Regions from separate parts of the Homo sapiens genome. Here all the other regions are linked to region 1. Evidence: fine-mapped expression QTL. A gene starts in region 1. Each other region holds a variant in brackets. All regions are shown on one strand. Distances are between the middles of the regions.

Evidence for each region. PIP is the estimated chance that this variant, and not a neighbour inherited with it, causes the effect.
Region 2: its variant is fine-mapped to the expression of GPR35 in gastroesophageal junction (GTEx, PIP above 0.99).
Region 3: its variant is fine-mapped to the expression of GPR35 in whole blood (INTERVAL, PIP 0.99).

The regions. Positions count from the first base shown.
Region 1 is chr2:240,621,350-240,630,536 of GRCh38, reverse strand. GPR35 (G protein-coupled receptor 35) reads right to left here and starts at 5,057. Exons shown (of 2, transcript NM_005301.5): 1 at 4,969-5,057; 2 at 1-588. The coding sequence starts at 584. RefSeq lists a silencer at 131-425 and enhancers at 4,597-5,103, 5,711-5,860, 8,764-8,903, 8,924-8,983.
Region 2 is chr2:240,595,408-240,605,780 of GRCh38, reverse strand. CAPN10 (calpain 10) reads right to left here. Exons shown (of 12, transcript NM_023083.4): 8 at 9,260-9,462; 9 at 8,839-9,100; 10 at 7,694-7,893; 11 at 7,384-7,429; 12 at 6,677-7,130. The coding sequence ends at 7,101. It also overlaps a transcript of GPR35 not described here. Among named protein-coding and RNA genes, the nearest start is that of CAPN10, 14 kb to the right of the region's middle. The variant T/C (reference allele first, on the strand shown) is at 5,088.
Region 3 is chr2:240,646,511-240,656,883 of GRCh38, reverse strand. No RefSeq gene overlaps it. Among named protein-coding and RNA genes, the nearest start is that of GPR35, 26 kb to the right of the region's middle. RefSeq lists a silencer at 504-553. The variant T/C (reference allele first, on the strand shown) is at 5,993.

The DNA.
Region 1 (9,187 bases):
ACCACCTTCAGGGAGCAGAAGACCACCACGGCCAGGGGCAGGTAGAATCCCAGCAGCGGGAACGCCATGGAGTTGAAATTGTGCCGGGTGCTCCTGAAGCAGAAGCCGCCCTCCTGAATCCCCAGGAGCCAGCGAGCCACCAGGGAGCCGATGACCAGCACCCAGAGGACCGCGCACACGGCCGCAGCCTGCCTGGGGGACCGCAGCCCGCGGGCACGCAGCGGGTGCCGCACGGCCACATAGCGGTCCACGGCGATGGCCGTGACCAGGCTGATGCTCATGTACCTGTTGGTCAGGTAGATGCCCTGGGAGAGCTGGCACAGCGGCGTGTCTGAGGTGTCTCGCAGGGAGTGCAGCACGAAGGGCAAGGTGCACAGCAGGCAGAGGTCGGCCACCGCCAGGTTGGTCATGTAGATGCGGGTCTCCGTCCACTGCTGCATGCGGCAGCAGAACACCCAGAGCGCCAGGCTGTTGAGCAGCAGGCCTAGCACCAGCAGGACGCCCAAGTAGGCGTAGAAGCCCAGCTTGATCGCTGGGGGCCAGGTGAGGTCGCTGGAGCCACAGGTGTTGTAGGTGCCATTCATGGTCCTGGGGCAGCACAGGGAGCCGGAGGTCAGCAGAGAGTGAGCAGGGGGAGCAAGGCACTGCCCCCACTCTGCCCACCTCTGGGCAGGGATGTGGGAGGAGGTGAGCCCCGACCCCACACCCACAAACACAAAACTCCTCAAAGAAAGCATGGGTGCCGTAAAGAACTCCAAGTCACCCTTGAGGTCTAACCCCTGGACAGATCCTCTTCCCATCTCCTGAGCTCTTCTCTCCTGGGATCTGCCTGCTGTCATGGGGCAGGAAAGGAGGCAGAAGGAGCTCCACGTTCCCCTCCAGTCCCCAGCCCAGCAAGCCCTACCCTCCAGAGCGCAAATCCTGGACAGGGAGCCCAAAGGGCCACCAGCCTTACCCAGCACACAGCTCTTAGCAGGGAGGGCTCAGAGGCAGCAGCACCTGTCAGCCCAAGGACGGGAAGACCAGGCTCCCGGACAAAGCCCAGGGTGGCCCCTCCACCCCTCCTGGCACCCGGCTGCAGGAGGCACCCACATTTGACTCCACACCTGCATCAGCCCTTCCCCACAGCAGAGTCCAGGACAGCTGGGACTCTGGCCTGCCCCTACCTCCCTGTGAGCCCACCCACCCAGTCCTGAGCTCTGGAGGTCCTGCCTGCATCAGCCTGAGGCCCCATCCCAGTCCCACACCTGGGATCAGGGATTCACCCCTTGAGCTCCCAGGGGCCAGAGCCTGTGACGGCAGCCCTGCCCCTTCAGGCCCAGTCGTGCTGCTCAGGGGCCGCCCAGGGGTGGAGCTGAGTATCCTCCTCTCCGTCACTATCAGGACCACCCACAAAGTCACCCCTCCACTGTCCACGCCAGCCTCTCGCTGTCCCCAACACCCTCCGCGACATAGCCCAGGAAGGCTGAGACCAGCCCCGGCTGGACCTGGGCAGGGTCTGGTGTCCAGGACACGGGCTAGAGTCATCCTGACTCGGCCACCCCTGCAGCTGGGCAAACTTGTTTCCTCATCATAAGGGGTGCTGGTGTCACACGCAGGCAGGTGTGAGACGGAGCTGCTGGTGAGCGCCCAGAGTCCAGGACTCACAGCCACACGTCCCACCACCTGGGTTACTCAGTGGGTCCAGGAAGAACCCGGAGGGGTGAGGGCGGGAGAAGCCTCTCCCCCAACCATCAGGCTGTCCTCTGGGGCATCCTGCAGTGGCTTCCTGCTGGGCTGGTATGGAAGGTGGGAAGGACTCAGCCCACAGCGAAGGGCCTTCCTCCTCCCTCTGCCTCCTCCCTCTGCCCAGAGGAGCACAAAAGGTCCCCCAAATCAGGAGGGGAGAGCGCCCAAACCCCGTGACTGCAGCTGCTGGGGACCATTAGTGCTGGGACGCATTTCCCCACGGTGGTCCCCGGGAACTCCAGGTCCCCAGTCCATGAGGGATGGAGGGCACAGGTTTCAGACAGAAACGAAACATTCTGCCCCCTGGCTTCATTCTGTCTCCTTAGATCCCACCTCTGGTGAAGTACAGCAGATATTTGCTGACTTCCAAGTTTCAGGAGCCCTTCCCCCGAGTGCAAAGTGCTGCACGCCCAGTGGTCTCTCTCCTCCCTTCTTGAGGGTCCTGCTTGCTTTCTCTCTGATTCATGAGCAACACTTCACCCTCGTTCCAGGGACTTTTGGAGGGACCCTGAGCCAGGCCAGGCTCCGAGGACATCCCCAGAACCCACTGGAACCAATCGCTGGGATCTTCCCTTCCTGTTGGGCCTATACTCCTGTGGCAGCCCCCGCTGGGGGCCAGGAGATCCCAGAACCTGCTCAGAATCTACACCTCAGAGGCACCTGAGCTGGGCAGGCACTGTGCGTTGGGGAGGGCTCCGTGCGACTGGCCTCCTACTCTCCCCACCTGAGTACTTGAATCCACCAGAAGTCCAGGGCCAGCCTTGGGCGGTGTGCAGACCTGGAGGGGGAGGGGGTCTGCACAGCTAGAGGGCGATTCTTTTGCTGCCCCACCTTGAGTAGAGGCAGCCTGGGACCCTGCCTCGTGGGAGGTGAGGACCCGAGGGCTCGTGTGCCTAGACCCCTTCCCATTGCCCCAGCTTCCCCCATCGCTCCCCATGGCTGCCAAGGGGCTCTCAGGTCACACATACCCAGGGCTGCAACTTTCATACTAGCCTCGGTGTGGCCCAGTATTTTGTGGGGGAATGTTTAACTGCAGGCAGGCACGGTGGCTCATGCCTGTAATCCCAACACTTTGGGAGGCTGAGACAGGAGGATGACTTGAGGCCAGAAGTTTAAGAACAACCTGGGCATCACAGGGAGACCCCGTCTCTACAAAAAAAAAAAAAAAAAAAAAAAAAAAGACAGAAAATTAGCTGGGCTGGTGATGCGTGCTACTCGGGAGGCTGAGGCAGGAAGACGGCTTGAGCCCAGGAGGTTGAGGCTGAAGTGAGCTATGATCCCACCACTGCACTCCAGCCTTAGGAGACAGAGTGAAACCCCATCTCTAAGAAGAAGAAAAAAACTCTAACTACAACATTTAAATTTTCCTGTTTATAATAAAACAAACACTGAACTATTAGGGAGAAAAATGCAAATGTTGCAAGAGTTTCGAGGTGCACGTAGGCTTCGAAGAAGTGCCCTGTTCATGGGTCCTTGTCTCGCCCGTGGAGTGCCTCCCAGAAAAGTTCAGGAAATCAAGGCCCAGGCTTTAGCCCAGATGGCATGGGGCCCCTGGGAGCTAACATGGCCAGCACAGATGCCCACCTACTGCCCCAGTCCCGCACAGGAATCTGTGTCCAGGCCGTGGACCGTAGCTGGCCTCCCGCCTCAGCTCCTCAGGCCTGTCTTCCTCGACAGACACCAGCACCATCAGCCTCAGGGAGCTCCCGCTGCCGGGGACCGTGGGGATGGGGCCCTTCCACTTCCTGCCCAGGAGGCTTTGGGGATTGGAGCCAGCAGCACGCCTCTGAGGCCCCGCTTCCCCTTCTGATGACAAGGTCACCCTCGGCTTCTGCACACAAAAGCAGAAAAGTGCCCTTTGATTCTGCACTGAGTGATCCAGGAGAGAAACCTGGCCATAGACGGGCGATCCAGCCACACCAGAGCCCCTCCCCAGCCCTTCCCCCTGTCTGGACCCGGGACCCGCCCAGACCCCAGAGTGCCTGGCTGGCCTGGGATTGAGACCACAGGCCCCAACCACTGCTGAAGACGTGGGGGCACGCAGTGAGGTGCAGATCCCTGTGGCCCAGGCACCAGAGTCCCCCGTACCTGTGACCCCACTGGGCCTGGGCCCCACACAGCACACCACACCCCAGGACCCAGGATGGGGCTGTGAGTGACACGAGTTCACCAAAGTAGCTGCTCACCTCGGGGCCACAGCACGGGGTATTCTTCATTCTTGTTTTTAAATGTCACATCCCACACTCCAACAAGCTGCTACCCAGACACAGGCTCCAAGTCTTCATCAGCCTCAGCCACCCCTGAGACCCCAACAGCCTCAGCCCACCTGAGACCCCAACACAGCCTCACCTCACTGAGACTCCCCATCACAGCCTCACCCCACTCTGAGACCCCATCACAGCCTCACCCCACTCTGAGACCCCATCAGAGCCTCACCCCACTCTGAGACCCCGTCACAGCCTCACCCCACTCTGAGACCCCGTCACAGCCTCACCCCGCTCTGAGACCCCATCACAGCCTCACCCCGCTCTGAGACCCCCATCACAGCCTCACCCCACTCTGAGACCCCCATCACAGCCTCACCCCACTCTGAGACCCCGTCACAGCCTCACCCCGCTCTGAGACCCCATCACAGCCTCACCCCGCTCTGAGACCCCCATCACAGCCTCACCCCGCTCTGAGACCCCCATCACAGCCTCACCCCGCTCTGAGACCCCGTCACAGCCTCACCCCACTCTGAGACCCCCATCACAGCCTCACCCCACTCTGAGACCCCATCACAGCCTCACCCCACTCTGAGACCCCATCACAGCCTCACCCTGCTCTGAGAACCCATCACAGCCTCACCCTGCTCTGAGAACCCATCACAGCCTCACCCCACTCTGAGACCCCATCAGAGCCTCACCCCACTCTGAGACCCCCATCACAGCCTCACCCCACTCTGAGACACCCATCACAGCCTCACCCCACTCTGAGACACCCATCACAGCCTCACCCCACTCTGAGACCCCATCACAGCCTCACCCTGCTCTGAGACCCCCATCACAGCCTCACCCCGCTCTGAGACCCTGTCACAGCCTCACCTCGCTCTGAGAACCCCCGTCACAGCCTCACCCCACTCTGAGACCCCATCATAGCCTCACCCTGCTCTGAGACCCCATCACAGCCTCACCCCACTCTGAGACCCCCACCATGCCCCTGCCCCGCTGGGAGGCCCCTAGGGCAGTGGGCGGCACTGACCTGCAGGCAGCTTTGGCCTCCCGGGTGGAGTGTGTGACCCCCGCTGCCAAAGCCTGCACAGTGGCTGTCTGAGAAGGGCTGGGGGAAGTGAAGCTGGGGTGAGCCACCCCTCAGGGCTGGTCCCTGACTCTGCCCCTCCTTAAGGTGGGGGGGCGGGCGGCTGACTGACGGCAGCAGGTCAGGGGTAACAGGAGTTCCCCACTGCTCCTGCACCAGCCCCAGCTAGAGGGCGTGGGGGATTTCTGGGAGGGAAGTGGGGTGCCGGCTGCCTGTGCTGACACCTCTGAAGAGCCAGCATCCTTGCTGAGGGCACACATTTGTTCTGGAAACAGCGTGAGAGACAGACAGCAAAACCAGAGACGCTCCAGCCCCGCCCACGGAGCCTTCCTCCTCCCCAGCCCACTTCTGCCCTGTCATCTCGGAAACCTTCCCAGGGCCCAGCCCTCCCAGGGTCTGCGGTCAGCTCGCCCTCCCCAGCGCCTCATGCCCAGCCCCAAGACAGGGTGCAGCACGCACACTCATCCTGGTTCATGCAGACACGCTCCGTGGGCGCCTTCCAATACACACACACACGCTGGCACACATGCACACACACATGCACACGCCAATGCACACAGGTGAGAGGCACACGCAGGCAGGCTGGCTCCTCCCCTGCTTCCCCCCGACTTGGCCACCGGCCCCTCCTCCAAGCCCACCCCCTCAGAAGCCTACCCAGACCACCCCTATCTGGTCTAGAATATTCTCCCTGGCCCCCAACTCCTCAGCGGACATCTTCCTTCTGAGCTCATGGTGGGGGAGCCCGTAGGCCCAGGCTGCGCCCCCATGGTGCAGAGCACCCCCTTCCTGGGCCCTGTCCACCCTGAGGGCAGGAGCCTCGTCTCCTCAACGTGGGCCCCACAGCCCCTGACCACAGCCTCTCCCTCCTCAACGGCTGGGATAGGCTGGGGAGAGCTTCAGTTTCACCCCTCCCCACTTTACAGCGGTGGAAACGGACGCCCAGGGAAGGGAAGCGCTTGGCCCAGCGTCACACAGGTGGTGGCAGGTCTGAGACCAGTGCCTGGGCCTCCTGAGCCAGACCAGGGCTCTCTACCCAGAGGCACGTGAGGAAGCCCTGGCTGGGCATTGGTCCTTCTCTGCTGTCATCCCGGGCCTGGTTCCTGTCCCTTTCTTCCTGCTTCCTCCTGCTGTCCTTCCTGCCCTTCCTCCTGCTTCCCCGGCTGTCCCTCCAGGCCCAGTCCCCAGTGTGCGCCCTTGGGTTCCCTGCCCAGTCTCCATGGGCCATGATGTTCATTGGAGAGGGGCCTCATCCTCGGGCAGGAGGCTCAGATTTGGGATTTCATCCATCCCTCACTCTGGCCACAGGGTCTGGCCTCTGGGGTCAGCAGAAGGCACGGCACCTGATCAGTCCAAGCCCGGCCGCCGTCAAGCAGGGACTGGAGGTGCAGGGCACGGCATCTCCCAGGAGTGCTCCTTCCACCTCTGGCAGATCAGATGGTGCCCCAAGCAGGCCTACCCAGCCCACCAGAGCCAGGGCCCTGCAGAGCTCCCCCACCCCCCCCACCACCAGGCCAGCCATGAACTCCACCGTGCCCCCTCTGCTGGGCATCACTCCTCCCCAGCAGTGGCCTGGGGCACCCCGTCCCCACCAGGCCTGGCCTCCCTGACGTGGCCTGGCACCTGTGCTCCTCACACACTGGAAGGGAAGCCCCACTGGGCAGGGCCACATGGTCCCAGCGGATTCTTCTGGGCTGTGTGGACTTGGGGAAGAAACTGGACATTTAGAGACTCTGACTGTCTCTGGGAAGGGCCCCTTGCCACCAGGTTCCACCTGTGTACAGGAAACGCTGTCCCCAGCCCACCCCCTACCTCTCTCCATCTGCCCCTTGGCTGTCTCCGCAGGCACTTCAGGGCAGTCCCACCCAGCCTGGAGCCTGGGCCCTCGTGCTCTGCCCCCTCCCACTCAGGCAGGCCTTGCCCGGGCCCCTCCAGAGCGCTGTTTCTCTCCTAGCTCCCCGCTCACCCCCAGGGCCCCTCTCTCCCCAAAGCTGCACCCTCACGACCTGTTTGCACCCTCACGACCTGTTTGCGCCCTCACGACCTGTTTGCACCCTCACGACCTGTTTGCGCCCTCACGACCTGTTTGCGCCCTCACGATCTGTTTGCGCCCTCACGACCTGTTTGCGCCCTCACGACCTGTTTGCGCCCTCACGACCTGTTTGCGCCCTCACGACCTGTTTGCGCCCTCACGACCTGTTTGCGCCCTCATGACCTGTTTCCAGCCCTTCACCCTGTTTGATTTTATCACAGAACTTATTTTTTAAGTAACCCTTTCTGCGCACTGGGCTTGTGCTTGTGGGACTCTATCTGCTTCCTGCCCTGTCGGGGCCCTGGCACAGAGCCCGGCCTCTGTGAAGCTCGACGACCGCTCACCCACAGCGACTCCGGCCGCGGGGCTGCGAGTGCCGGGGACATATCAGGTGCTCAGTCGTCGTCGGCGCCCGGCTCAGGCACGGTCGCCTGGGGTCCTCTGCTGCTGCTCAGGCCCTTCTTCGAGGACACCCGGAGTCCCCAGGTTCGAGAGGCCAGATGGCAGGTTTCCAGTCCAGGCCAGGCCTGTTCTCTCCCTGCTGGGCAGCTTCAGACCACCTGGCCCTCTGCGGAGAACTGGCAGCCAGGGTCCTGCTGTGGGCACGGGGGCACTGCCCGGGGCCCTCCGCCCCCAGCCTCTGCTCCTGGGCAGCTTCCTCTCCGAGGCTGCCCCCTCACCCCCAAGGTTAGCCCCCTGCAGCAGCGCCAGCCCCTCCCACTTCACCCCGCTGGGCTGTATGTGTGACGCGAGGAGCTCCGAACAGGATTCCTTCCTGCCCCTCCTCCTGCTTCTCCAGCTAGAGCTGCCGGACGCCACCCCTGCAGCCCTATCTAGGGGAGCCTCTGCAGCAAGCTTGTCCAACACTCGGGCTGCGGGCTTTGAATGTGGCCCAACACAAATTTGTAAACTTTCTTAAAACATTATGAGATTTACGCAGAGACCTTTTTTTGCTCATCAGCTATCGTGAGTGTTAGTGTATTTCATGTTTGGCCCAAGGCAATTCTTCTTATTCCAATGCGGCCCGGGGAAGCCAAAAGATTGGACAGCCCTGCTTTGAAGGGAAGTCTGTGAGGCGATGTCAGGGAAGCAGGAGCCTGGGAGAGCCAGAGAAAAGCCGTTTACGTTCAGCTCCACCTTGAGACCAATGAGGCACATACCTGCCAGCCACAGCCCATGGTCATACGATGTTTACAGCTAAAGCAGCAGCCAGTGACGCCTGCGTGGACACACTTCTATGACAGCAAAGTGTCCAAGTGCCCTGGTATCCAGAACAATATATGCTTTCCAGACAACTACCCTTGGCCGGACGCGGTGGCTCAGGCCTCTAATCCCAGCACTTTGGGAGGCCAAGGTGGGAGGTTGGCTTGAGCCCAGAAGTTTGAGACCAGCCTGGGCAACATAGCAAGACCCCATCTTTACAAAAAGTAAAAAAAAAAAAAATCAGCCACGCATGGGGGTGCATGCCTGTAATCCCAGCTACTCAGGAGGCTAAGGCGGGAGGAGCACCTGAGCCTGGGAGGCAGAGATTGCAATGAGCTGAGATCGTGCTACTGCACTCCAGCCTGGTTGCAACAGAGCAAGACCCCGTGACAGACAGTTTTCTTTAAATCAATAGAATAATACATGTTAGGCACAGTTTAGCTTAGTCTTTACACAGACGAGACCCCTGTATGAGAAAAAGTTAAAGCTGGGGTGTTCCCCCTCTTGCTTTCTGACGACACCCTGCTCTGTAATGGAGCAACTTTCAATAAACCCTCTCTTCTCACCACATTCTGACTTGCCTCCACTTCCTTCCTGAGTGAGACCCACGAAGCATGTCTTGAGGTCTGAATCGAGACTCCTTTTGCAGTGAAGCTGCCATCCTAAATGAGTCGCTTGGATCCTCATGCGTCCTTTGCATAGTTTTGGTTTACTAAAACAACACATTGGCTGGGTGCAGTGGCTCACATCTGTAATCCCAGCACTTTGAGAGGCCGAGGCAGGGGGATCACGAGGTCAGGAGTTCAAGACCAGCCTGGCCGACATGGTGAAACCCCATCTCTACTAAAAATACAAAAATTAGCTGGGCGTGGTGGCGCGTGCCTGTAGTCCCAGCTACTCGGGAAGCTGAGACAAGAGAATTGCTTGAAC
Region 2 (10,373 bases), 25 kb after region 1:
AACAAACAAACAAAAAAAGCAAAACCAAATGAAGACTCCAAGGGACAGCGAGCAAGGCGCAACCATGAAGAAAGCACGAGCCCAAAGTCCAGGTCTGAACACCTTGGCCCCAGCCTGGCCGGCCGCATCCTGTGTCCTGCCCGGGCAGCCCTGCCCCGACCAGCCCTCTCCCTGACTACCGCTCTCAGGACACAGGATCTCGACACTCACCCCAGAAGCTCTGCTGCCCCCAAGGCTGGCCCAAGCCTGGAGGACTGTGAAAGAGAAGACGGCAGTATCAGGACCGGGTGGGACACGGCTCCCACCAAGGAGTCACCAACTGCTGTGCCTGGAGCTGGAAGTGACTAAAGGAAGGAACCCAGGCAGGTGGTGTGGGACAAAGTCCACAGGAAAGGCCAGGAAGGAGGTGCTCTCATGGGACACACCCAGTCCTGCCCGTCCGGATCTGCCAGGGCCACCCTTTGTCCCTTCCCACCATGGTGGGGAGACGGTCTTCAGCCCACATGCCCCACTCTGCAGGCCCACAGTACCGCCAGGGACCCCACAGCCCTGGACCCCATGGAAAGGCCAGGCCCTGCCTTCAAGCATTCCGGAGAGTTCTGGGTGCCTTGCCAGGGCTGGCGTTGGGGAGACAGGATTTTATTTTTCAGGGTGGCTCTCATTTGCTAGGACACAGGCCACTGGGGACCCAGCATTTGTGTAAGAGATGGGCCCTTCTATAGATGACACATTTATGTCCCCGAAATTCACATACTGAAGTCCTCATCCCCAAGGTGAGGAATGAAAAGGTGGGGACCTCTGGTAGGTGATGAGGTCATGAAGGCAGAGGCGTCACGAATGGGATGAGTGCCCACATAAAACGGGCCCCAGGGAGTTCCTTTGCCCTTCCACCACATCAGGACACAGAGAGAAGGTGCTGTCTCTGGACCAGGAAGCAGGTCCTCACCAGGCACCAGGTCTTCCAGTGCCTCAATCTTGGACTTGCAGCCTCCAGAACAAAGAGCAACGCATTTCCACTGTTTACGAGCTGCCCAGGCTATGGTGCTTTGTTACAGCAGCCCAAAGGAACTCAAAGAGGGGCCCCACCAAGGAACTCAGGCAGGTGCAATGCCAGAAGAGCCAGTAAATCTTACAGGGGTGAGGAAACTCTTTGGCTTTCTCTATTTTCACGTAAACCAGCAGCCTTGCGGCAAAACGAGTGGTCAATAGGAGACTGAGTGACTGCTTGGCAGACAGCCAAGAGAGGCCGGAGAGGGCAGGAAGTGCTGGACAGTGGCTCCCAGCTCCAGAGCACCCCTAGAGGCCCCTGGGTGACACAGGCAGGGGAGCCTCACGGAGATCCAGGAGCAGGCATGCTGGAGGTGGTGCTGATTACAAGCTTGCTGATGGTCAGGCAGCGCTATCAGCTCTGAGGCTGAGAGGGGACTGAGGGTTTCTAGATGGCCTTCACCCTCAAGCAGAGCTGTGCGAGGAGCCGATCCAGGCTGGCTGCAGCCGCTGCAGAGTCCACCCCAGCAGACGCTGAGAGAGAAATGTCACTGGGTGGCCTGTGGCCACTGGCCCAGAAAGCAGGAAAAGTCCCACAGTGCCTCACCCCTGCTTGCCTTCCTTCCCTCCTGACACCCCAGGTGTCTCCCCCAAGCCGCCAGGCCAAGGGCGCTTCTCCCCGCAGGTGTTCCCAGGGTTATGGTCTACACAGCCACTGCTGAGAGGGTGCAGCCAGCAAGGAGTAAATACGCTGGCCAGCAGGTGTGAGCCGGGGCGGTAGCCCCAAGGGAAGGCCCATGGCTGGGCTGTGGGCAGCGTTCTTGGGGGCAGCCTTGTCCAGGGATGCCATGGGGTAGTCTGCCTGGGGAGGCTGAGCCAGGCAGGGCACAAAGACCAGGCGTTTCAGCCAGGTGGGGGCACCCCGGCCACCGACACTCCAGGCTTCTCCCTCACCAACCCCACCTCTTCCACCTTCCCTCCGAAATACCTTGCACCCAAATTCTATGTCTGCCTCTGCTTCTGGAGAATCCAACCCCCATTGGAGAAGAGAGTCACTAATTTGGGATTTGGAACTGGGTCACTCACGGCCCACGGGCAATGAGGACCCATCACTGGTCAGGGGAGATAGCTGGCGCCTGGCACAAGGTGGTCGTCCTGTCCAGTCCAGTTGTGAAACTGGTTCCAGTGTCCAGTGGGAAAGTTGGGGAAGGGGGTCTGCTGGGGGCCCCAGCTGCTGTTTGATGAATGAACAGACACGAGGGCCTCCAAGGAGGAAGCAAATAAGGCGCAGGTGGCTGAGGCCTCACTGAGGTGCCCTGGCTGGAGTTTGGAGAAGTTGGGCGGGGCGCAGCACTCCCAGCTCCTGATCAACACCTAGCCAAGGCCAAGGCCCCATCTGGAGAAACCAGGACCGTGGGCAGGGAGGAGGCAGTGCGTGGTGCCTGAAGGTTCCACTCTCCAGCCTCTTAGGAAGCTTCTGAGCCTGCACAGACGCGGCCCACCCCTCGCTCCACCCCCGTCAGGCCCTGGCCCCCCTTGGGTGCTAGGGCTCTGACCGAGTGAAGTGTCAGCAACATCCAGTGACCAGGGAGTGGGCTGCGGGCCCGGCCAGCTCGGGGCACAGGAGGGGGCTGCAGGCCCAGCCAGCTGGGGACGGGAGGCGGGAGCACTGGTAGGACTGGGTGCTGAGGCGCCTGATAGGGAAGCTGGAGACCTAACAGCAGTGTCCCGAGACACAGGTTTGACACCCTGGCAAGGCCCCTGGAGGTGGAGCAAACCTGGAGGTTCCTAGCGGCACAGGCAACACTTCCACTTTTGCTGGGCAGGGTAGAGATGCCACAACTGCTGTGGCTGGTGGAGGGTAGGCGTAGGCGTGTGTGGTGTGAGCTGCCAAGCACTGGTTCCCTGGGAAGACCAAGGTCACACCGCTCACCTGTGCCATGCTGGTTAATAGGGAGTGGCAGCTGTGCCGCAGGAGGCTGGCAGGAGTGGCGGCGGTGCCCCAGGAGCCTGGCGGGAGTGGCGGCGGTGCCCCAGGAGCCTGGAGGGAGTGGGCGGCGGTGCCCCAGGAGCCTGGCGGGAGTGGCCGGCGGTGCCCCAGGAGCCTGGCGGGAGTGGTGGCGGTGCCCCAGGAGCCTGGCGGGAGTGGCAGCGGTGCCACAGGAAGCTGGTGGCAGGAACCACCATCACTGGGTTTGGCTCGCCGGGGGCGGAGGGCATTAGACCTCTAAACAGCAGAGGCCAGGAGACAATCATGAACACGGCTGAAGGGCGCCAAGGGGCCTGCCTGCAGGGCTTACGGAATGGCAGCAGAGCAAGGCAGGGCTGCCAGCGAGGGCAGCGCTCAGGTGGAGCCGGCAGAGGGGTCCAGGAGGGCTGAGGGTGGTCACTCCGATAGAGCCCCAGTTGGGCCCACACTGCCCGAGTCGGTTTTCAGCCCAGGTATCTGCTGACTGAAGAGGTGGCCAGGCCTGCAAGATGAAGGACACTCCCCACATCAGCAAGTGTGCATGACAAGGACCTCCCCGGGGACTATGTGCACCAGGAAGAGAATATCCAGGCATCTGGGAGCCACTGAGCACACAGGCCCCAAGCTGATGCTGGTCCCCAAGAGTCACCAGGGCTCCATGACAGTGGGACACATCACAGGCAGTTAATAATGGAGTCCTGCCCAGGACCAGCTCACATGAGCCCACAGGGCCTACAGACCCACCCGGGGCCATGTCCCGGTCTCTGAGCCTGTGACTGGGATTGACACCTGGGGAGCGACCGATATCTCTGCTGCATCCTTGGGGTAGAGATGGCCGTGGGAAGGCCAAGAGGGACACTGGAAGGCCAAGACTGTCCCCTCCTGCCCGGGTCCCAGAGCAGCCGTGGCATGCGGAGAGAGGGTGGTGGCCCTGCTCTCTCCATTTGGTTCAGTGTGGCCCCGTGGGATGGGATTCCTGGAGGGCCACGTGGCGAGTGCACACACAGCCGAGGGGCAGCCCAGTGCAGCAGGTCCTGGAGGTCCAGGTACCCAGGGTTGGCCATCAACTGGACGAATACGCCACGGAAGATCAGAAGCTGCTCACATTTATATGAAATTTGTATGGAATGGACAAAGGCATTTGCTGTTTCTCCTGGGGCCTCTGCCGGAATACAGGACAGAGACCCCAGCTGGCCGGACACCCTGAAGAGCACCGCACTGATCCATGACCTTGGCAACAGGATGCTGATGGTGTCAGAGCAGGAGGCAGCCAGGGACAAACAACACCAGGCCGGGGCCTTCTGCACCAGAAATGTTTAGGTTGGCTGGGGGTTAGAGCCCTGCCAGACATCCCCTCCAACTGCATCTGGAACCTCCCATCAGAAGGAAGCACAAGGCCTCAGGGCTCTCCGCAGGCTTCGGAGGGAGCGTTTTCCACACCCAGGAACATGGTTCCAGCTGGTAGACCAAATGGCCAAAGCAGCCAGGTCGAGTGGAGCCAATCTACACTGGGGCGATGATGGGTGCCAACCATGGCCTCTAAAGTCACGGAACCCTGCGCTTTCGAGGCCTCCTCTCAGGCAGTAGCCTGGGACGCGGGAAGCAGGTCCTGGCTGTGGCCTTTGGGCAGAGCTGCCCAGCAGGAGGGTGTGGCCGCCACCTTCAGGGCCTGCCTCGGGGACAGTGGCTCCTGAGGGCCTGGGGGAAGGGATGCTCAACATAAGGGCCTGGCCAGCCCAGGTGGGGCCCTGCAGGCAGGGTTTGCTCCAGAACTCTTCACGGGGTCCCCACCAGTCTATCCTGACATGGACACAGTCCCTGCAACTGTCTTCCCTTCATAGGCACTGTGCCTGAGAAATACCTTGACCCCAACTGTCCCACCTCAACCTGCACCATCAGGCGCCCTGCACAGGACCTGTCCGCCCACAAACCCAGGGATCTAGGGCAGCTCCGACCCAGCTCAAGCCTCTGGCTTGGGCACTGCCCTGCGGGGTATTTCTTTGGTGAGCCGCCCCTCACTGTTCGCCCTGAGTTGCTGTACCCCAATAGGCGGCACCACTGGCTTCATCCGAAGTCAGCACAGAAGCCAGTGGATGAGGGAGATCTGTGGCAGGCTCTGCACGCAGGGAGA[T/C]GGAGCCCCATCCTGCTGCTCAAGAATCCGTGTCTGAAGATGCCGAGAACCCAGCTGCCACAGCCACTGCTGCTGGAGGGCCATTGAACCAGCAAGCAGAGGGGCTCACGGGGCAGGCTCCAGGGCCAGGGCAGCTTCCTGTGGGTGAGTCAGGAGGGTGGCTTGGCGTGGCCAGGGCGTGGAGAGGGGGACAGCGGCACAGGTCCCAGTGGGAACAGACACCAGGACTCCAGAGATGGTCGTGATCCGGCAGCAAGGCCCAAATCAGGCTCACTGGGTGCTATGGTTTGAATTTGTGTTCCTGCCCAAATCTCATGTCGAATTATAATCCCCAGTGTTGGAGGAGCCTGGTGGGAGATGATTGGATCATGGGAGCGGATATCCCCCTTGCTGTTTTGGTGATAGTGAGTTCTCCTAAGATCTGGTCATTTAAAAGTGCACAGCACCTCCCCTTCGCTCTCTTCCTCCTTCTCCAGACACCTGCAGACTGCCTGCTTTCCCTCCGCCATGATTCTAAGTTTCCTGAGGCCTCCCCAGCCATGCTTCCTGTACAGTCTTCGGAACTGAGGCAATCAAACCTCTTTTCTTTATAAATTACCAGTCTCAGAGTTGTTTACAGCAATGTGAAAAAGGACCAATACACGGGGTCTCCCCAGGCACAAAGGGACTCAGGAAGCGAATGGAATTTAAAAGGGATTAGAGCTGGGGTTGGCGGTCATGCCTGCAATCTTAGTGCTTTGGGAGACCAAGGCAGGAGGATCACTGAGGCCAGCCTAGGCAACCACATACTAAGACCCCTAAGCATTCAAAACTTGAAAAAACTAACCAGGCATGGAGTGTGCGCCTGTTTTCCTACCCACCTGGGAGGCTGAAGAGGGAGGATCACCTGAGCCCAGAAGGTCGAGGCTGCAGTGAGCTATGATCATGCCACTGCACTCCAGCCTGAGCAACAGAGCAAGACCCTGTCTCTAAAACAAAAGGGCTTAGTGACAGCCCTCCCCACCCATGTCTGGAACTGTCTTCTGCACCGTTCAGTGACACTACAGCTCTCATCACAGCATTTGGTGTGAGGGACGAGGGAGAGAGGCCTGGGGAAATAAACAATCCTAGGACACTGCGCAGGTGAACCCTGGCTGGAGGCAGAGGAGCCGTCCAGATCCAAGGCTCCCAGTCCATGTGAACCTGGGGTTCCTCCCTCTGCGCAACTCCGGTTCTAACACCCGTTTCCGAGATGTCCTTCTTCGCCACAGCCTTGGCAGTGCCTTCGCTGGCTCTCCCCACCCCTCACTCCCCAGTCTATCAGTCTGTGTCCCCCAAGACCAGGGCTTGACCTGCCCCGGCCAGCCTCAACCTCAGCCCCCTGGCCTGGGGCATGCCCTGGGCCCGCCCCTCCAAACTTCTCCCCTCCTCCCCACTCACCATCTCCCCCTGAAACCTGCCCTGCCTGGGTTGGCTCTGCCCACCTCCCAGGCCCCCAGCCCCTCCAGAGGCCATCCTCATCCTCACCATCTCGGCAGGCACCCAGCCCTCCCCACAGCCTGCTTGGCAAGAGCAGGCACAGCCTGGAACTACCTGGAGCAAGACTGATCTGCAAATCATCAGCGCTCATGTTTATTTATAAAGTTACATCCTAAAAGTGATTCGAACAATAAATAGTTATAAAGAAGATCTGCTGCCCTACCCTCTGGGTGTGAGGCCTCCATATGGAGTCAGCAGAGGATCTGGGAGGGATCCTGGGAAGCTCTGGGATCCTGGGGTCTCTGCCGTCTCAGTGGCGCAACAGAAGCCAGCAAGCTTCCCACCCTTCCTTGCAGCACCAGCTGGCCCCCAGGGCTGCGTCTCTCCTGACGGAGGCTTCCCGTGGACCCCTAGGCCGCAGCCTCCTGGCAGGGCTGGGAGGCAGGCCAAGACTCAGGACCAGCCCCCACAGTGCAAGGCTGGCCGGCCCAGCTGCTGGGAACCTGTCAGGCCCTCGGGCTCCAGTCACCTGAGCTGGCACAGGGGGCCACCCTGTTAGGTTTTCATCACTGCCATGATGGAGACCTGCAAAGACAGATGGGGGGCCCGGGCAGCGGTGGCACTCGCCCCTTCTCACACCCCACCCCGAGTGCAGCCAGGGAATGGGACGCAGCCTCAGCTCCCCCTGCCCTTCAAGGCACCGCCCGGGGCTCTCACAGGAAGAGTCAAGGGCACCTCACGTCCCAGGCAGAAACCACCTGCCTGAGGTTGCAGGTAGACCCTAGGCCACCAGGCAGCCCCAGGCAGGTGAGCCGGGCTGGCGGGGCTGCATACACACCTCTTGGAGGAACTGGCCCAGCATCTCCTGGCTGTGAATGGATGGCCTGTGGAGAGACACCAGATCAGCGCTCCCAGACTGCACTTGTCACACAAGTGGCTGTGTGCTCCTGGCCCACCTCCCACTAGACTCTCCTTCCAGGCTCAGACCAGCAAGGAAGGGTCCCCAGGTAGGCAGGACAGCCCTGGTCTGCCAGGACAGATAGGGGCTTGAGGGTGAGGGGCAGGCAGGAGACGTGGGGGGACAGGCGAGCACTAAGACTCCAGCACCCCAGCCTCCAGCTGGCCGCCCCCAAGTCCCAGAGCCCCACCTGTCAATCCTGGTTGCGATGGTCACTGTGAAGGCCCCCTCTGTGTCCGGCAGGTAGGTGGAGGGCACAACCTTGTAGGTGCCCGCAGGCAGGAGGCAGAGCCGGCTCACCTCCTGGGCGTAGCGATGTGGCACGCAGCTCAGCAGCGGCTCCTGCAGCAGCAGTGGGGGTGCGTCCTGGCTCCTTCCACCCTCTGGGACCTGAGGAAAGCGCAGGCTCAGACTGAGGGGGCCAGCCTTGGGGTAGGGAGCCCAGCCCAGGGCCATCTGCTCGGATGCCCTTGGCCCTCTTGAGTCACATACAGCCCCTTCTCTGAGGAGGGGCTGCCAGGCCTGGACACTGGACTCGCCTCCTCACCAAGGCCTGGCCACCCTTGCCAGAAGGTGCCGGCAGTGGGGCCCCCGCCTGGAGGCCTGTCACATCATCAGGGGCTTTAACACCTGTGACTGCCCAGCCCGCCCCAAGGGCTCCCACTGGCCCTGGCATGTGTTTTCCTCAGAGCTCTAGGGGACCTGAGCCGGTGGCCCAGGGCAAACAGCGAGGGTCCAAGGGTCCCCAGGCAGCCCACTGTGAACCGAGGGTTGCAGTGCCTTCCTCGTCAGGGCCCCTGCATTCCAGGGGACACATGTCTGCAGAGAATGAACCTTGGGACACAGTCATTCTGAGTCAGGGTAAGTGGACAAGGGGCTGCTGGCTGAGCTCAGTGACTGTGGACTTCCTCACACCCGAGGGGCTGCTGTGGCCAGCCAGCCTGGGCCTCCCCTCCTCTCACTCCTGAGTCCATCAGCCCCCTGCGTTCCCAAGCCAGGGCTCGACCCACCCCCGCTGGTCTCAACCTCGGCCTCCTGTCCTCTCCAAACTTCTCCCTTCCTCCCCACTCACCACCTCCTCTGGAAACCTGCCCTGCCTGGATCAGCCCTGCCCACCTCCCAGGCCCCCGGCCCTTCCAGAGGCCATCTTCGGCCTTGCCTCTGAGAGGTTGGAGATGGGAGAGGGCCCTGTGCGGGTTCTAGGCAGCGCCTCGAAGGGCAGGGGGAGCCCAAGTGACTGAGCCCAGAGCCCTCTGTTGGGACAATGGAGGCCAAGATGCAAATTCTCTGAGGGCCCCTTCTGCTCCCCCTCCCTCCCTGGGGCAAGGAGCTTGCCTGGAAGATATGGAAGCCGATGGGGTGGAACTCGGTGTCACTGGGCCGGCAGTGCTGATGCAGAGTGATGCGGACGCAGCGGGGGCCAGGGCCCTCGGGGACCGAGAAGGGGAAGCAGGGGTTGGTGGGGTATGAGGCAAAGTTCCTGCTGCCCCCCGCCGTCTGGCCGACTCTCCAAGAACCCCGTAGCTGCACGGTCCCCCACTCCCCCGCAGGCAGGGCTGCCCCGGGGGTGGTGTTCTTGGCCACTGCCCTGATGGCGCTGCCAAGAAGACAAACATGGGAGGGCGCTGGCAGCAGGTTCCCGGTGGCCTCAGTTCCCACATGGACACCTGCCAACCACAGAGGGAAAGTGCCCAAATCCTGCCTTGGAAGGGCCTGTGGCCTCGGAGAGCCAGCAGCACTGCGCGGTTCCTCTCACCTAAGGGAGACTCGCCCGGTAGAGAAGACTCGGAGCAGGAACTCCCCTGGCGCGTCCTTCAGGAAGGTGCTGGGGACAGCCAGGTAGTAGCCCGGTGAGAGCTCACAACGCAGGTGGACCTCCCGGTCGTATGCATGGCACGCGGTGCCAGCCACGGGGGGCATGGACAGGACCCTAGGCAGATTGACCCGCCGCTTCTCTACCTGTGAGCACGTGCAGGAGGCTCAGTGTGGAGGAGCGGCCGGGGTCAGACGCCCTGGCCTTGACCTCCCTGCTGCAAGCACAAGGGCCTCTGGAGTTGACAGATGAAAGCGCCAAGGCCTGTCAGCACCCTCCACCCTCTCTCAGGGACCAGCTAGAGATGCCCACCAATCCCGGGCTTCACTTGGCCCTGGCGCCAGTATCTGTCCCAGACACGAGCCTGCAAGTCCTCCTTGTAGCTGGGCCCACAAAGGCACCGTGGCCCAGGCAACCTGGGGGCTGCTGGACAGTGGGCCTTCCAGCAACTTCTTTTGCAAGAGGAAAGGAACATCATGTGGGCCACATCCATGAAGGGACAGGGAACAGTGTGGTGCCAAGTGTCACACCCTGTCAAGACACACAAGATGAAAACCCAGCCCCTGAGCGAGCAGCCGGCATATCCTCGACCCACACTCAGGCCCTTTGCCCTCAGGCGCCCCCATCTGTTCTTCCTGGAAACAACACACTTTGTGAACCAGTGGTTGAGCCTGGGACTGCCTGGGCCTCAGAGCAATCCCATGAGATCCGTGTCAGGACCCCGTCTTGCAGGGGAAGAGACTGAGGGAGGCAGGGAGAGGATGTGTGCCAGGTCACACAGCAAGCTGCAGAGCTGGGACTGGCCCTGACAGGTCCTCAGCCGCTGGCTCTACCTCCTTGCCTCAGAAAGGCACGGCGCTGCCAGGAGCCCCCCGGGTCCAGGCCCCTCCTGCGGGTCCTGCCCTGGCTGCAGACTCTGTTGCTTTCCTTTGGCCAATGAGGCACACGGCAAGGCAGAAAGACCTGCAGTCTCAGGTCAGAGCCGGGTCTGGGAGCACCAGCAGACGTCAACCCCGTGCAACAGCCCAAGGAGGGGGGAGACTGGTGGGGCCCGTGG
Region 3 (10,373 bases), 26 kb before region 1:
GTCAGTGTCTGTTCCTTTCAGGACCTATTTGTAGGCTTCTGGGGCTACAGAATCAATTCTACTTGCCAGCTATGTGCAGGGCCTCCCCCTTACCCCCCTCTGCTTCCAGGTAAATCTGCCCTGCAGCCATCTGCAGTCTCTGTCTCTGTATCAGCAGATAGTTGCATCTCATGGCTCCGAGGGTGTGTTGAGGGGGAGGACATGTTTAGGCGCAGCCCTTCCCTGCGCCGCTGCAGCCTCCACATCCACGGCTTCCATGGGCCCTTGTGGCCATCCCAAGTGAATGCACCAGGACTCCCATTTGCCAGTTCCGATCACCTTCTGATCCTGGAAGGGGTTCTTCTGATGGATATTGTCATGTTCTACTTTAATGCACCCCTGAAACTCCCACGGTGATTTTCAAGGGGCCCTTTCTTTAATAGACTAGTTTTCCACTGGCTATCTGCAATCACATGGCCATGTCACCGGCCACCCCTTATGAGTCAGTAAAAACCCAAACAGGAAAACCACATGCAAGTCAGCCCACTGAGCTAGTTTGACTTTTCCTTCTTCAATCAGAGAATCATGCCTGTAATCTCAGCACTTTGGGAGGCAGAGGAGGAAGAATCACTTGAGCTCAGGAGTTTGAGACCAACCTGGGCAACATAGCCAGACCCCATCTCTAAAAAAAAATTTTAAAACTTAGCCAGGTGTGGTGGCGGGTGCCTGTAGTCCCAGCTACTAGGGAGGCTGAGGCAGGAGGATCACTCAAGCCTGGGAGTCTGAGGCTGCAATGAGCAGTGATCACACCACTGCACTCCAGCATGGGTGACAGAGCAAGACCCTGTCTCAAAACACAAACAAAAAAAACAAAACAAAACAGAGGGACAGCCTTCCAAACAGGATGCTCCCCATTCTGCCTGAACCTGCTGTCCATAAACCAAGCAGCTTCCTGCTGATCCGTTGGGCACTGTTTTCATGGTGACAGCATCTGGCAGCTCCTCAGAGGATTCCAACGTCCGTCCTCGGGGAAAAGAGGCTCTGCTCATGGGGTGATGAGCTCCTCCTACCTTCCCCCAGGAGCATGTACCTGTACCCGAATACATAAATTAAATAAAATTTCCATTTTATTCCGGAATTCTTTTGGGCACTGACCTCTCCATGGGAGTGTTTCTCTGGCAATGCTTAAGACATTCTGGGTATTTCAGGTTCTGGGGTTATTTTATGTCCTTCAGTCATAGGAACAGTCTTAATCAAAGCTCAGTAACCCGCAAATTGTCTCTCAAACAGAAATTTCCAGTCCAAAATCGCACTTCTCACTGCTGGATGGTGCTCACAGGCTTGACTGTGAGTCCTGGTCTGCCTCACACAGGGCTGGACCATACAGAGAATGTGTGCCTGCACTCCTGCTTCTAACAGGGCATTCATTCAAGTGGTAAGCCCTTTTTGTCCACCAGCTGTTTAATACTGTTTCAAATTAATGACCTCTGTGGGCTTAGACAACGTTATTGGCTCCATTTAGCATGCCCAGCCAATATTGGCTGAAAGGTAGATTTACCTGTTGATATGGTTGATATGGTTTGACTGTGTCCCCACCCAAATCTCATCTTGAATTGTAACTCCCACAATTCCCACATGACATGGGAGGAACCTGGTGGGAGGTGATTGAATGATGACAGCAGGTCTTTCTATGATAGTGAATGAGTCTCACGAGATCTGATGGTTTTAAAAATGGGAGTTTCCCTGCACAAGCTCTGTCTTTGCCTGCTGCCAACCACGTAAAACATGACTTGCTCCTCCTTGCCTTCTGCCAGGATTGTGAGGCTTCCCCAGCCATGTGGAACTGTAAGTCCATTAAACCTCTCTTTCTTTTGTAAATTGCCCAGTCTCAGGTAGGTCTTCATCAGCAGTGTAAGAATGGACTAATACACCTGTCTTCTGTTTTACATGTGACCTAAGGGAAGCATCTGCCAGCCAGATGCAGTATCTACCCCCATGACACATTCAGGTGCAGCAGGTGCAACCACATCACATAAAATCTGCTCAAACATTCCGATATTCATCGGAACTTTCACCTTCATCCCATCAACCTTTGCTTCCTGCACCCTCCCACCCCAGCTGTAGCTTCTACAGAGACTTCACCAACAGGTTTGGAATCACAGTAGGAGAACAGCCTGTTGCTGTGTATTTATCTCGAAGCAAAAACACCATGATGACCAGTGTTTGATCCCCACATACCAAGGTGTTCTGCAGTAGGGTCTGTAGACATTGCCTGCAGCAGAGAGAACCCTTCAAAAAGACGTCTATCTAACCTGCTCAGTGGACACACGTCTTGGCAAGAATGTCCGAAGATATGACCAGCTGCACACGTTCTATCACACAAGCTTGCTAGATAAAGGATACTTTCTGGCCTGATGTGAGTGACTCACACCTGTAATCCCAGCACTTTCAGAGGCTGAGGCAGGCGGATCACTTGAGGTCAGGAGTTTGAGACCAGCCCGGCCAACATGGTGAAACCCCATGTCTACTAAAAATACAAAAATTAGCCAGGTGTGGTGGCACATGCCTGTAATCCTAGCTACTTGGGAGGCTGAGGCAAAAGAATCACTTGAACCCAGAAGGCAGAGGTTGCAGTGAGCTGAGATTGCACCACTGCACTCCAGCCTGGGTGACAGAGGGAGATTCCATCTCAAAAAAAAAAAAAAAGATGCTTTCTGGAGGGCAAGTGGCTCACAGCCCCTTGAGACGTGGCTTCTGTTCATAAGTCCCTATTTTTTTTTTTTTAAGATGGAGTCTCGCTCTGTCGCCCGGGCTGGAGTGCAGTGGCGCAACCTCGGCTCACTGCAAGCTCCACCTCCTGGGTTCACGCCATTCTCCTGCCTCAGCCTCCCGAGCAGCCAGGACTACAGGTGCCTGCCACCACACCTGGTTAATTTTTTGTACTTTTAGTAGAGACAGGGTTTCACGTGTTAGCCAGGATGGTCTCGATCTCCTGACCTGGTGATCCACCTGCCTCGGCCTCCCGAAGTGCTGGGATTACAGGCGTGAGCCACATAAGTCCCTATTCTATATTTCTTTCTGAGAAGCTGTATTTGTCAGCTTCTTTCTTCGGCCTCTCAGCTCCTGGGGCCTTTGCGGGTAGGTTTGCACTGACCTGCTCACCATGGAGCAATCTCAGTGCATGGGGCTCTCGTGTTGAGGAGTCCCAGAAACATTTCTTCTCCATCCCCTGAGCATTTTACCCACTCATGGGTGTATAGCATTGGGTCCCCAGCCAGGGGTCAGGCCAAAGGATGCCTGACCCTCTCATCAATCAAGCCCTTATCTTGATTGGATTGCAGGAGCATCACTCTAGGTGACTGGAGGCCAACTTGCTCATGGTCACCTTTGCCTTCTAATGTTTTCTATTTCTCCAAACTGGATGAACATAGGTTTAGGCCCTTTAGTTTGGGGCACACAGGAGCTCCCAGCAGTTCCAGTTTCTGAGAGTGCTGCCGTAAGAGTGTTGTTTTAACCCCATTAATGTCTGCTTTGCTCTGCCCATGTCTGTCTGTCTTTCTTTCTTTCTTTCTTTCTTTCTTTTTTTTTTTTGATGGAGTTTTGCTCTTGTCACCCAGGCTGGTGTGCAATGGCGTGATCTCAGCTCACTGCAACCTCCGCCTCCTGGATTCAAGTGATACTTGTGCCTCAGCCTCCCGAGTAGCTGGGATTACAGGCTCCCACCGCCACACCTGGATAATTTTTGTATTTTTAGTAGAGACGGAGTTTCACCATGTTGGTCGGGCGGGTCACGAACTCCTGATCTGGGATTAGAGGCGTGAGCCTCCGCGCCCAGGCTTATTATTATTATTTTAATTAGAGATGAGGTCTTGCTATGTAACCAGGCTGGTCTCAAACTCCTGGCCTCAAGCGGTCCTCCCACCTCAGCCTCCCAAAGTGCTGGGATTACAGGCATGAGCCACTGAGCCCGGCCATGTTCTTTCCATTTCTTAATAACTGTTGAAGGATGTTCACCTGCTGGGATGGGCTCCTTCACTCTCCCACCTGACTTTCCTCATTCTTTTGCAAAGCAGTCTGAATTTCCCCACAATCTGTTGTTTCCACACAACTTTTTCCTTTGGCCCTGAGGCCAGCGACTATAGCTTGGACCTCCCAGAACCCAGGATTGGTGCAATGTCAGGATTCAGCCCAACATCTTCCTTACCTTTCCCTCTAACCTTCCCATCGGTCATGGCCCCAAGGCAACCACCTCGGCCTCACTACCCATTGGCTCAGGCTCAGAACCTCTCTCTTGCTTTCATTTCAGCTTTTACAGAAACAATAACTCACAGTGGACCCATATGAAGTGCCACTAGTGATGCTGGAAGTGCCCAAGAAGCAGAGAAAAGTCATGACATTACAAGAAAAAAGTTGAATTGTTGGATACGTACTGAGGTCTGCAGGTGCGGTTGTGCCATTTCAGAGAGACAATTCATCTTGTAAACAGATGACAGAAAACTTAATGATATTGATAAATACAGTACAGTACTGTAAATGTATTTTCCCCTCTTTATGATTTTCTTAATAATAGTTTATTTTCTCTAGCTTACTTTATTGGAAGAATACAATTTATAATACCTATAACATACCAAATAAGTGTTAATTATTTATGTTATCAGTAAGGCTTCGGGTCAACAGCGGGCTGTTAGTAGTTAATAGCCTACTGTTGTGTCTCCGTGGTAATAGCCTATCATTGTAATTGTCAGAAATGAGAGTGGTCTTGAGGACTGTTTTCTCTGCCTTTACAGTTTGATAAAATTCCTGCAGCTGAAAGTGGAATTCACTAGAATGTCCCTGACTCGCTAAAAAATGTGGTATGGAAAAAGGAGCAATGAGAGGGCAGGGGATGAAGGATCTCTCTTTTACTTTCACCCTCTCTTAACTTTTGTTTTAGCTTTTAGGGAACACAATAACCAAGAGATTGCATATGTAGCTTGGTTTTTGTTACTTTGTATTTCCTTATTCATCCGGCCAGCCAGTTCCTGGGGATCTGGATCCATCATTTCCAAATTCTGTTGGAAACTTTTACCTCCTGCAACTGACCACAGCAGGGCTGCAGCTCCATACCACACGTGACCCATGGCCATCCAGAAATCAGAGGTCCTTCATCCCCTGCCCTCTCATTGATCCTTTTCCCAAACCACACGTTTCAGTGAGTCAGGGTCATTCTAGTGAATTTCACTTCCAATTCCAACTCCAACTCCAAGAGCTTTAGCCAAATGTGACGACAGAGAAAACAGTCCTCAAGAGCACTCTCACTTCTGACACCAATTACAAGTTCCAGGAACCCCACACCACCCTCAGGTTCTGTAATTTGATAGAAAGACTCATAAAACTCACCGAAAGCTGTTATAGGTGTGGTTACAGTTTATCACAGAAGAAGGACACAGTTTCAAGTCAGCCAAGGAAGCTGCACACAGGGCAGAATCCAGGAGAACAAGAGGCTTCTGTTGTCCTCTCCCTGTGTGGTCAGGCCAGTTTTGCTCTCCTGGCATGTACGTGTGGTGACACACCTGCAGCACGGCCAGCTGGGGAGGCTCACTTGATGCTCTCTGCCCAGAGTTTTTACTGGGGCTCCAATATGTAGGCATGGTTGATTGATTGGTTGACTGACTGATTGCTCACATAGTTGACCTTAGACTCCAGCCCTCAGGAGGTTGAGATGTGTGACCAAAAGCCCCTACCCTAAATCACATTGTCGGTCTTTCTGGTGGTTAGCCCCCACCTAAATACTATCAAGTGTGGCCCGCCACCACCCTAAATCACCTTGTTAGACTATCTGGCATTATCCAAGGCAAACAAAGGTAAACAAAGACACTCCTATCAGTCATGACATTCTAAGGGCTTAGACATGACCTTCCAGAAGCCAAGGGAAGGGCTAGACATCTTTTTGGATAAGGTTAAATTCTTTACCGCACAACGTGTGAGATAAAAATTATGGAAGAAGGAGTTTAGGATTCCCAGAGCATCCTCA[T/C]GTCCCTGATGCTGCATGGGGTGCATCTGCCAGAGGCCCCTCGCGGTGATGGAAGCCTGAGGAGCAGGAGCACCTGGCTGTGGCAGGTGAGGTCTGGGTTCCAGGGCCCAGGGTGGACCACACATCCCAGGCCCAGGAGCCAGAGCCTCACGTGGGCCCACCCCAGAGGCCAGGCACCAGAACTCAGGCTGTGGATCCTGTGTTCCCGGAACCACCTACAGTTTGGCTGCCTTGATCCAACCCTCCCACAGGAAAGGGTGCTGCTGACCCAGCTCCATCCTCTCCTCATCCCCTTGCCACATATTAGAGGGTCCTAAGGGTTCTGGGGTGCAGCTCCTAGGAAGAGGACTCTGTCCTTTTCCAGATTCCAGAAAGGGAGGAAGACACTGCTAGGAGTCTTCCCCTGTGAGGGTGCCCTGGCCCAGAATCTCCTCCACTGAAGAGCAGAGAAATGTGCCTACACCAAGAGCTGTCCACACAGCCTGACAGCAGAAGTGTCTCGCCTCCGAGTGACCCCACTTTCCGGTGAGCCCACTTCCAAAGACCCAGAACCACCGCAAGACGCTTTGCTCTCTACTAAAGCGATGCTGATTTTTTTCTCTGTTAGTTTTGTGGCTATTGAGTGATCATTCAGCGACTTAAGTGGAAATCTAACAGATTATAATTCTTCTATAATGTCCTGCAGGTTCCTCAAACATGACTCCCAGTGATTAAGGGCTTTCATGCCCTCCCACTAGTGGGAAGTGTAATTACATTATCTTGTTGTTGTTAATTAGTGTAATAAAGTTATCCAGAAACACAGCAAGAACTTTGTCTTCTAAAATAATTTCCATGTTTTTCTCTTTTATTTTTTTTTTTGTTATTATGAAATGGTTACACAATATCTCAAATGGAGACCTAATGTAATTTTTAGGGTAGTGTTTTATAAATGTACATTATGTAAATGTGAATCTTAGTAAACCATTTCCACATTATTTGATTTCCGAATACTGCAAGAAGCATATTTGTGTCATTGTTATTTAATAAGTCTCTTCATCCAGGAACCAGAGGTCCTTCATCCCCTGCCCTCTCATTGATCTTTTTCCCAAATCGCAAGTTTCAGTGAGTCAGAAACCCATTTTCCCTCTCTTGTGAGCTAATATTGGACCTCCTGTTGGAGCTAATATGTATCTTCCTCACATGGAGGAGAAGCAGCTGGGGGCCTCTTTCTCCTCCAGTTAATCTTCCTGGGATGTTCTGCTCGGAGGCCATCCTAATCTTAACACAACAGGGGCCTGGGGGCCCTAAGCAGAGTACGGGGGTCAAACCCGCCCCTCTTCAGCCTGTCCTGCCCTCTCCTTTGGTTCCACTGTGGTGGTGAGTTGATTACACAATTGGTCCTATTGAAGCTGGACGGAATTCTAGTTCTTGGGGTAGTGATTTCTACACGAAGCTCATTTGGAAGTGAATTTCCTGGGGGCACTGTTTCCTTTCCTTCTGTTCTGACAAGGGAAGGACATTATTTGGGTGTGGCCGCCTTTTAAGACCCTGCACCAGGGAAGTTCGGTGAGGGTTTTATAGGAGCCGTCTCACATCTGGGGAGATGCAGAAACACTGTTCTCTTCTATGGACCCAGAGATGAATATACAGTAGTTAGAAGACCAGTTATGTTCAACTCACTAAAACTTGATTTTTAGGAATGTTTGGGAAATACCGTTTCCACAAAACATCCTTCCCTCGTCCATCCATCGCGGGTGCTGGGGATTGCCTGTGGGAGACCTGGCCTCGGTGCTGCCTCCCTCCCTCCTTCAGTCCTGAATCCAGCTCTGGAGGAGAAGCAGCTGGGGCCGGGGAGGGGAGGTGACACCGTGCCCCGAAGGGTTAAAAAGACCGGTGACTGACAGCGGGGATTCCTGAGCTCACATGACGGCAGGTAAGAACAGCAGCAGCGTGCTGGAAATTCCCTCCTTGTGAGAATAAAACTGCCTGAGATCCTGGGGACCCAAAGGGCCGGCTGGAGTGGGCAGCAGCTTGCTGACATCACGGCCCAAATTTCCACCTCACGTTCATACTCACTGCCCCTGAATCAGCACATGTGACCCTGCAGAGGCACGAAGACACAGCTGCACATGCCCAGGGGACATTTCAGACCTCCCCTTTCCCTCCGGCAATCACCCGCTAATCCCAGAACCCACCCCAGACCTTTCCTAATGACGGCACTGCCTTAAGGCCAGGAAGGGGAGATGGATGTGAGCTGCATCCTGTCTCCTTGTTGCTGACCCACAGCAAAGCTTGTCTTTTCTTAAACCTGGTGCCACAGTACCGGCTTCTGAGTACCTCTGGAAGCCAGCCCCATTCACTGTCTTCCCCAGGCAAACCAGCTGCCCAGATTTGTTTCCCCAAAGTGCCTCTCCTCTCCCAGGCCGCTCACCCTATCATCTCTCAGGACCAGGGTGTCCCAGAGCATGCTTTAGGGGGTGCCTAGAGTTGGGACAGGCCACTGGACATCCAGCAGGGACCCTGAACTCAGTTGCGACCCCAAGGGCGTGGGGCCCGTTCTCCTCCAGTGAATCTCCCTGGGATGTTCTGCTGGGAGGCCCCCCTAACCTTAACACAACAGGTGCCCAGGGGCCCTGAGCAGAGTTCACAGGTCACACCTGCCCCTCTTCAGCCTGTCCTGCCCCAGGCAAAACAACAGTGACAAAGACTTTCCAGGATCCCTGACAACCCTCCCTGTTATGTGGCCTTCACCTCCCGCTTCCTATGTCTGGTCTTGGGTGTGGAAAGGACCTCAGAGGTTAAACTGTCACCCCCACCCCCTCTCTGGCCACCTCTGCCCCAAGCCACTGCCTGGCCACACCCGTGACAGCTGGAGCTGACAATTCTGCTTCCTTCAGGGCAGAGTGGGCACTGGCCTGGAGACTCCAGCGTGTGCAGGGGCACAGGCAGCCACGGCTCTCAAAGCTGCGTCAGTGGGGCTGCTGTGTGACTTGGACTCAGTCGCCAATGTCCACTTCCCTCCAGTCTTCAAGCGCTGTCAGAGCTTGTCACTAGCAGAGACGAAAGTCACATCACCTGTGGGGGCACAGGCCTGCTTCACAAGGACCCCAGATGGTCCTACAGGGATGCTTGCCTCTGAGGGGGCGGACACAGGGCTTTCACCGCCAGTAATTCAGAGCCCCTCTCTGCCTTCCAGTTCATCCCAACCCCCCTATTGCCCCATTCCAGGCCGACTTCCCCCCGAGATGCCAGAGCGCGTGTCCTGTTTGTTCCCGGCCCGGAGCTTCCTGCCCCTGCTGCGTTGCTGGCCTTGCCCAGGACCGTACGCGGAGCCTGCTGCCTGACGCTCAGCAGCTAATCCTTTCCACAACTCGAACGGCACTTAAATTGCCCTCCTATTTTCACCCCAGCCCTTAGAAAAGCTGGGCTTGGTCCTGTACGAACAAATTCCGCTACTGCGAAGCTTCCAGCTCCATCAACGAAGCCCAGCTCATGCAGAGGGGGTGTGACAGGAGGCCCCGCGCCGCCACCGGCAGCTGCTCTGCTCAGGGTACCAGCGGGCGGGGCATTGAGTGCGCCCAGGGCAGGGGCCCGAGCCTCCGCTCAGAGGACACTCGCTCGGGACCAGGGGCCGCTGGCTCCGAGAGGAACCACGCACCCCAAAGCCCCCCGTGCTCCTCATGGGCCACCTCTTCTGGGGGTGCTGCTTCTGCCCTGGAAGCCCAGCCACTCTCCCTCCTCCACTCCCTGGTCCGAGGTGTCAGGGACACGCGCAGGGCTCCGGCTGCCTCTTCCTGGAGCCAAGGGGGAGCCGGGGCTTTGGCCAAAGATTCTTCCCGCGCTTCCATGAACACTACAGCTCATGCAGGGCAGCCGGGAAGAGCCTCCAAGGCAGCCCCTCCTGGGTTGGGACACACAGAGCCGGGGTCTCAAACTACAACCAGATGGGCCACTGCCTATTTCTGTAAACAGGGTCACGGGAGCTCAGCCTGGCCTTTGTCCGTGTCATCCTCCGCTGTCTGCGGCTGCCTTCACCCTCCGCCGACAGCGTGGTCTCCTCGCTGAGGGGGCTGGAGACGTTCACCGACCGGCCCTTTACAGAAGAGGCTGCCGGCCGCCAACGCAGACCCCCGGCCTCGTGGCCCAGCAAGCACCAGGGCGGTTTTGTTTCTGGTGAGCGCCCACCCCGCGGGTGTCTGGTGAAAAGATTCCGTGTTGCATCCTGCTGCAAAGGAGCCAGCTGCACAGCTCCAGTCCAGCTATGGACAACCTTCTGCAGGAGACCTTGGGAAAAAGCAGAAGTTCGACAAAGGGCAGCTCTGACATCACTGGTGTGTGTTCTCTGTCTACTTGCAGCTGCCCTGGCAGAAGGGGGCACAACCAGAAGAAAAGAGCCTTCACT